Regions from separate parts of the Homo sapiens genome. Here regions 2 and 3 are each linked to region 1. The links come from fine-mapping of genetic effects on gene expression. A gene starts in region 1. Each other region holds a variant in brackets. All regions are shown on one strand. Distances are from middle to middle.

Region 1 (2,753 bases):
CCCAAATGTCAACAGTGCTGAGGCTGAGAAACCTTTACTGTTTGGCTTCTAATTGCATTGTACAAGGATGGGAGTGCCGCTCAAAGACTCAACAAATTCAAGAGTCTAGGTTAAGTTTCTACAAGGCCAGTCCTATATGGGCTAGGTGATGTAATAATAATAATAATAATAATAACTTTTTTCATCACTTCTCGGCCTTTTGGCTAAGATCAAGTATATTATTACTATTTTTTTTTGAGACGGAGTTTCACTCCTGTTGCCCAGGCTGCAGTGCAATGGCTGGATCTTGGCTCACTGCAACCTCCTCCTCCTGGGTTCAACCTCCTAGATTCTCCCACCGCAGCCTCCCGAGTAGCTGGGATTACAGGCGCCCGCCACCACGCCCGGCTACTTTTTGTACTTTTAGTAGAGATAGTGTTTCGCCATGTTGACGAGGCTGGTCTTGAACTCCTGACCTCCGGCGATCCACCCACCTTGGCCTCCCAAAGTGCTGGGATTACAGGCGTGAGCCACCGCGCATGGCCAGTATTGAAGAATCAGAATAAGCCCTTGTTAAAGATACAGCAAACAACAGAGGACACAACATTGTAATATATCTACATCAACAACCAATGATAAAACAGTCGAGAAAAGGTATTGGTGGGGAATAGAGAAAGCTGTCAGTCTCTTCATTATGCAACTAGTAGCTGCCAGATGCCCATGTTTTGTTGTTGCTGTTTTGTTTTGTTTTGAGACCAGAGTCTCGCTCTGTTGCCCAGGCCGGAGTGCAGTGGCACGATCTCAGCTCCCTGCAAACTCCGCCTCCTAGGTTCAAGGGATTCTCCTGCTTCAGCCTCCCATGTAGCTGCTGGGTTCGCTTACGCGAACCACCTTCAGACTTTGCCACTCTAATTGGATTTCCCAAACCTCCAGGCTTTACACAACGGACACCTGTTTCAGAACTGTCTCAGAAGTAAAAAAAAAAAAAAAAAAAAAAAAAAGAACTGTCTCAGAAGGCAGGAGGTAGGATGAATCGGAGAAAAGGGAAACTGAAGAGCACTTATTGTATGACCTTGAAGAAGAGAATTGAGACGTAATCCCAAGTGTCAGCTGTCCATCCACAAAATGGAAGAAAATACATTTTCTGTTTGTGAGGATAAACAAGCTGTACACGCCTGGCACCCATGCCTTCAGAGAATGAAGAACTTGCACTAAGGCACACATAACGAAAAGAGAACGGACGCTTGAAGAGATGTACAAGGGCGTACCTTGGTCCTGATGCGGAGATGGGGGTAGGCGATGAACTCGGGTCTCTCGTGCTCTCCGTGGTGCGACTTCAGGTACACATTCAGCATGCTGACTGCCACCCCGGGGAGCGCGACGAAGAAGGTGAGAGTCTTCCACATGCGAGCTGCGGAGAAGCCACAAACGTTCAGCGCCGGTATGGGGCGGGCCCGGGTCTCACTTTCCCTCCCGCAAGGCCTCGGGCCAAGGTCACAGTCCCTCCCTGTCTCGCCCGAGTGGGGCTGAGGCTCGACCCGTCGACCCCGGCCCCAGTACCTGAGCCCTCTTCGCCATGGGCGCCACTCGACATAGGCCGCCCCAGCTGTGGGCGGGACCGACCCAGCAGCCGAGAAACCGAGGACACACCAACTACCGCCATTTTTGATCTGGACTGCCGCAGCGCCGGAAGCGGAAGTGGAAAATTGGCTCTGGGGGCGGTACTACAACCTCCAAAGGAAGTTACTATTGGGCGCCGCCCTCCCACTGGCATTAACCTGAGCACTATCATCCGGGACGACGGAGTCCTTGTCAAAATCCTCGGCATCTCGGGCAAGAGAGAGCATGCGCTCTGCACCTCCCTTCAGGCTTTACCGTTTCCTTCGTGCGCATGCGTGTGCCCTCCGGTCTCCCTACCGTCCCCACCTGGGCGAGGCGGAAGCTCAAGAGAGGTTTGTGCAGGGTGCCCTGGTACCTGGAATCGCTCCCTTCGTTGGAGTCCATGGACGGGCATCTGGAGGTTCTGATCCCAGACCGCCCTATCTAAAATTCCGTTCCCCTTCCTCGCCATCCTCCGACTGCGTTTTCTCATAGCACATAACATTGCACCTTCGTCGTTATATTATTATTTTGTCTGTCTCCCCCACTAGAATATAAAGTCTGTGATACCAAGAGTTTGGCACTGCAGCATTCTCAGAATAATCTGGGAATGGTGTAATTTGGAATCATACCTGGCACATACCAGATACTTGATATAAATTTGCTGAATGAATGGATGAATGAATGAATAGCAACAGAAAGTATAAAGAGCACTGAAATTGGTGCCAGCAGACCTGGATCCTAATCCTGACTCAACAGTCTCATCTTTTTTTTTTTTTTTTTTTTTTTTTTTTTTGAGACGGAGTTTGACTCTTGTTGCTTAGGCTGGAGTGCAGCGGTGCAATCTTGGCTCACTGCAACCTCTGCATCCCAGGTTCAAGCAGTTCTACTGCCTCAGCCTCCTGAATAGCTGGGATTACAGGCACGCACCACCATGCCTGGCTAATTTTTTTTTTTGTACTTTGGTAGAGACAGGGTTTCACCATATTGGCCAGGATGGTCTCCATCTCCTGACCTTGTGATCCGCCTTCCTCGGCCTCCCAAAGTGCTGGGATTACAGGCGTGAGCCACTGTGCCCGGCCTTTTTTTTTTTTTTTTTTTTTTTTTTCAATAGGCCCCTTTGAGAATGTAATGAGGACCAGCGTGGTGGCTCATGGCTGTAATCCCAACACTTT
Region 2 (2,761 bases), 270 kb after region 1:
CATGTTGGTCAGGCTGATCTCGAACTCCCAGCCTCAGGTGATCCACCCGCCTCGGCCTCCCAAAGTGCTGGGATTACAGACGTGAGCTACCGCACCTGGCCATAAGGATTATCTTTCTCCCTCTAATTTTGTGGCTGTAGAGTTTGATTTAAGTTTTGATTTCACTTCACTTCTTTTTGAGATATTTGAAAAATTAACTGAAGGGTTTTAGTCGTCTGGTTCACAGCTGGTTAGATAAATCCTTTCTCAGTCCTGTCATTTCCAAGGATCAGGATGTCCTTTAAGGTGCTTGTCCTCTCTCCACAGGTGACACGCTGTTGCAGGCCCTGGACTTACTGCCCTTGCTCATCCAGACAGTGGAGAAGGCAGCCTCCCAAAGCACTCAGGTTCCCACCATCACTGAAGGGGTTGCCGCAGCCTTGTTGCTCTTAAAGTTGTCAGTGGCTGACTCACAGGCTGGTATGAGTCCAGAGGTGTCTAGGATGGTAGAGACAGGGGCCTCTGACAAGAGTCCTTGGGAGGTGTGTCTTGATGTTCAGGATTAGCTTGGTCCTGACCACACTGGATCAGCCACAGGTTTGCTTGTCATCTGCAGGATGAACCTCATGGTTGCATGGGCAGTGGGAATGCAGTCAGGGGACTGTGTCACTGTCCTCCTTCATTCTGTTGCTCCAGTGCTACACAGGCTTGTAGATGATACCTAGATGGACCAGGGTTTAGTATTGGGACTGTTTGTTTCAGTTGGTTATACATTCATACAGTACAAAATTCAAAAGGATATAACATGAGAAGCTTCCCCTTAGCCCTGTCTTTTCCCGTAGCCGTTAAGTTTCCCTCTGTAAACGGTGTTACCAATTTTGCACTTTGGGAGGCCGAGGCAGGCGGATCACGAAGTCAAGATTTCGAGACCATTCTGGCCAACATGGTGAAACCCCGTCTTTACTAAAAGTACAAAAATTAGCTGGGTGTGGTGGCGCATGCCTGTAATCTCAGCTACTCGGGAGGCTGAGGCAGGAGAATCGCTTGAACCCAGGAGGCGTAGGTTGCAGTGAGCTGGGATTGCTCCACTGCACTCCAGCCTGGGTGGCACAGTGAGACTTTGTCTAAGAAAGAAAAAACAGTATTACCAATTTTATGTCCAGACATAGTGTGTTATGTAATTGAACATGCTGGGGAACATACGCTATATGCCATATTACTTATAATATATAATATATATACTATATATAATATATCTTCGAAATGATTCCAAATCAGTACATCAGAAAGAGCTTTCTCATTATTTTTTGTGGCTACATCGTATTTCAGGCTTTCTTTTCTTTTTTTTTTTTCTTTTTTTTTTTTTTTTTTTGAGACGGAGTTTCGCTCTGTCGCCCAGGCTGGAGTGCAGTGGCGCGATCTCGACTCACTGCAAGCTCCGCCTCCTGCCTCAGCCTTCCGAGTGGCTGGGACTACAGGCGCTACGCCGCCACGCGCGGCTAATTTTTTATATTTTTAGTAGAGACAGGGTTTCATCGTGTTAGCCAGGATGGTCTCAATCTCCTCACCTTGTGATCCACCCACCTCAGCCTCCCAATGTGCTGGGATTACAGGCGTGAGCCACTGCGCCCGGCCAGGCTTTCTTTATTTCATCTCCCAATCTCTGC[A/G]CTGGGACACACCTGAACTTAACTCCTTTGGTTAGGAATGGAGCTCAGCTCTCCTCATGTAATATCGTGTGCTCACTGTGGCCATGCAAGGCACTGGGCTACCTGGGGGAATGCTAAGATGAACATGACCTTCTTCAGCAAATTTCAGGGTGCTTACTTCACAGTAGGCGCGAGGAAATACAGAAATATATCCGTAGCTTAAGACAAAATGCGGCATTAGAGCAGTTTTGAAGGAGAGATTGCTTTTAGTTGGGGGGGTGGGTATTGGGAAGGGCTTCATGGAGGAAGCATTTGAACTGGTACCCTGAAGCCTCTGAAGGATTTCATTATCCTGAAGGGATGGCCCAGTGTGAGTCCAAACAGCCCCAGTCAGGGAAGGGCAGGGAAAGCCAGAGTCTGTAAACCTCAGGTATTCCAGCTTGGCGCCTGGGGTGGATGGGAATTCCGGATGAGAAGCAGTTCACCTAGGATCCTGTAGGCAGCAGAGAGCCACCGAAGAGTTTCGTACAGGAGGTGATACCAGAAGGACTGAGGTCAGTTCCCCAAATGGAAGAGCACTGAGCCTCCTGCTGCAGAGGAGGGTTTGTCAGCAAAGCCCACCCCAGCAGCTTCAGGATGGAGTAGATCAGCTCTGGGGGATGTGGTGAGCTGCGTCGTGGGGTAACCTTTTGTTTCTTGCAGAGGCCAAACTGAGCAGTTTCTGGCAGTTGATTGTGGATGAGAAAAAGCAGGTTTTCACTTCTGAGAAATTCCTGGTCATGGCTTCAGAGGATGGTAAGTTACTCCATGCTTAGTTGAACTCGGGATTGAGGCAAAGTCTCTTTGGAAAATCTTCAGAGAGGACCCTTTCTTGACCAACCAGTCAGGTCTGCAAAAACCTGGGCCAGAGTGATCTGGCCAACAGCTTAGCTGTTGTGGGAATAAATTCATTCCTGTAGGGAACATAAGGTTAGGGAAATGGGACTTGGGAGATGTGTGGAGACAGAGCAGTAATGGCTGTGGAGCTACGACATGAGCTGTAATTATAGCTGATTGGGTAATTGGTGCTGTCTCGGAGGTTTTCTTGTGTTAAGGCAGCTGAGAAGCTCTTGTGGAGTCTGGCAGGCTCTACTCCC
Region 3 (2,761 bases), 260 kb after region 1:
GCTCTGCCGCCTTGCTGGCCTTGACCTGGACCTGCCTCCTGGTGCGCATTGTCTTTCCATCGAGAGCCAAGCGACAAGGAGACATCTGGAACAAACTGGTAGGTTCCCTGTGTCTCTGAAGTAGCAAGGGTCAGCTTTCTGCCAGGAGTTAGAGCATGTTTCAGCACCTTCTTGGTGCCAAGTGCTTTTCTGGGTGCTGGGTGACCAGACACTCTGAGTTGTCCCGAGGTGTGTGGCTTTGGTGGATGGCCATGAGTGCAGCATAATCACATTGTTTGGTGTATTAGACATTTTGGAGCTTCTCTGTCAGGCATGGTGCTAGGCACTAGAAATGCAGTGATGCACAACAGAAATGAGGCCCCTGATTTCATGGCATGTGTGGAAGCCGTGACAGGCCAGAGTTGGGAAGACAGCCAAAAATCAAGTAGACTAGAAAATATCATAGTGTAAATCCTCTTGGTGTTTTTCTGGCTGATCATTCCATTCCCTGTGTTTGATTTCAGTGTTGAACTGGTGAATGGAATGGATTTTTTGTCTTGGTTTTGGTTCTTAAATTCCCTCTTTCCATTCTCTACCTGCTCCTTCCATATTCTCTTCTTTTTCTTTCCCCATGTCTGCTCACCAGGTTGGGAGGTGAGCAGAGCAGACATGTGCCTGGGTAGGCTTAGTGTAGGTCATGAGGAGTGGTTTTTTAGTGTAGGTCATGAGGAGTAGTTTTTTTTTTTTTTTTTTGAGACGGAGTCTTGCTCTGTTGCTCAGGCTGGAGTGCAGTGGTGTTGGCTCACTGCAACCTCTGCCTCCTGGGTTCAAGCGTTTCTCTTGCCTCAGCCTCCCGAGTGGCTGGGATTACAGGTGCCTGCCACCACACCTGGCTAATTCTTTTGTATTTTTAGTGGAGACAGGGTTTTTCCATGGTGGCCAGGCTGGCCTTGAGCTCCTGACCTCAGATGATCCGCCTGCCTTGGCCTCCCAAAGTGTTGGGATTATAGGTGTGAGCCACTTTGCCAGGCCTTGGATCTGATTCTTGTCCATGAGACTTGGCTGAGTCACTTAACTTCTGAGCCCATTTCCTCATTTGCAAAGTGGGAAAGAAAATACTACTCACCCTGTCCACCTCAAAGAGTTGTCGCAAAGCCAGGTTTCGTTGAGGGTTGAGATGACTGTGGAAACTGGAGAGTCCCAGGCAGGTAG[G/A]TGCCAGTGATGACCGGCCTTAGGAAACACAAGTACCGCTCCATGAAGCAGCCTGCTGGTTAGATAGAGGGCTGCATCCCTGGGAGCTTATCCAGCGCACCTCTGGGGACAAACATGGAATGGCTGTCAGTATAATTGATTGATGATGGATTAGAATGCTGAAACCTTGAGGGTCAAGGATTACGTATTGTGAGCTGGGACTCTCTTGGATTTGCTTCAGGGAATGGGTGTCATTGTTACCAAAAGCCTCCTTGTAAGAAGGGGCAAGCTCATTGGCTTATCTGCACTGAGTGGTTTTTTTTGTTTTTTTTTTTTTGTTTTCTTTGAGAGACAGAGTGTAATTCTGTCACTCAGGTTGGAATGCAGTGGCGCAATCTCGGCTCACTGCAACCTCTGCCTCCCAGGCTCAAGCAATTCTCAACCCTCAGCTTCCTGAGTATAACTGGGACTATATGTGCATGCCACCACACCTGGCTAATTTTTGTATTTTTAGTAGAGATGGGGTTTCACCATGTTGGCCAGGCTAGTCTCAAACTCCTGACCTCAGGTGATCCGTCTGTCTCAGCCTCCCAAAGTGCAGGGATTACAGGTATGAGCCATTGTGCCCAGCCTACTTTTTTTTTTTTTTTTTTTTTTGAGACGGAGTTTTACTCTTGTTGCATAGGCTGGAGTGCAATGGCGCGATCTCGGCTCACCGCAACCTCTGCCTCCTGGATTCAAGCGATTCTCCTGCCTCAGCCTCCCAAGTGGCTGGGATTACAGGCATGTGCCACCATGCCCGACTAGTTTTGTATTTTTACTAGAGACGGGGTTTCTCTATGTTGGTCAGGCTGGTCTCGAACTCCTGACCTCAGGTGATCCGCCCGCCTCGGCCTCCCAAAGTGCTGGGATTACAGGCATGAGCCACTGCACCTGGTCGTGCCCAGCCTACTTTTAAAAAAATGTATTAAAAAATTTTTTTATACACACACCATGATTCTGCAGACTTCTTTTTTTTTTTTTTTTTTTTTGAGACAAAGATCTTGCTCTGTCACCCAGGCTGGAGCACAGTGGCATGATCTCAGCTCACTGCAGCCTTGACCTCCTGGGCTCAAGCGATCCTTCTGTCACAGCCTCCTGAGTAGCTGGGACTACAGGCATGCTGGTGTATGCCTGGCTGATTTTTGTATTTTTTTAGAGATGGGGTTTTCTTTTGTTGCCCGGGTTGGTCTCGAACTCCTGGGCTCAAGGGAACCACCTGCTGCGGTCTTCCAAAGTGCTGGGTTTATAGGTGTGAGTCACCACGCCCAGCCAGTAATCCTTTCTATACTATGCTATATATAGGGAGTCCTCTGTTGCTTACGGTTTTTTATTGTTACTAACAGTTCTGCAAAGAATAACCTTGTACATATGCCATTTTGTATACATGCAAATGGAATTTATCAGCATTGCTTTCCACAAGCATATCTGCTTGCTTGCTTTTTCTTTTTCTTTTTTTTTTTTTTGAGACGGAGTCTCGCTCTGTCGCCTAGGCTGGAGTGCAGTGAGGCGCAATCTCGGCTCAGTGCAAGCTCCGCCTCACGGGTTCACG

The links.
Region 2: its variant is fine-mapped to the expression of COX6A1 in whole blood (TOPMed, PIP above 0.99).
Region 3: its variant is fine-mapped to the expression of COX6A1 in whole blood (INTERVAL, PIP above 0.99).

Annotation. Positions count from the first base shown.
Region 1 is chr12:120,437,016-120,439,768 of GRCh38, reverse strand. It overlaps COX6A1 (cytochrome c oxidase subunit 6A1), which reads right to left and starts at 1,656. Exons shown (of 3, transcript NM_004373.4): 1 at 1,540-1,656; 2 at 1,248-1,390. The coding sequence starts at 1,642. It also overlaps the pseudogene LOC124903126. RefSeq lists enhancers at 962-1,483, 1,410-1,619.
Region 2 is chr12:120,167,867-120,170,627 of GRCh38, reverse strand. GCN1 (GCN1 activator of EIF2AK4) reads left to right here. Exons shown (of 58, transcript NM_006836.2): 15 at 307-459; 16 at 2,328-2,420. Among named protein-coding and RNA genes, the nearest start is that of MIR4498, 14 kb to the right of the region's middle. The variant A/G (reference allele first, on the strand shown) is at 1,647.
Region 3 is chr12:120,180,906-120,183,666 of GRCh38, reverse strand. It overlaps GCN1 (GCN1 activator of EIF2AK4), which reads left to right. Exons shown (of 58, transcript NM_006836.2): 5 at 1-98. Among named protein-coding and RNA genes, the nearest start is that of GCN1, 12 kb to the left of the region's middle. The variant G/A (reference allele first, on the strand shown) is at 1,192.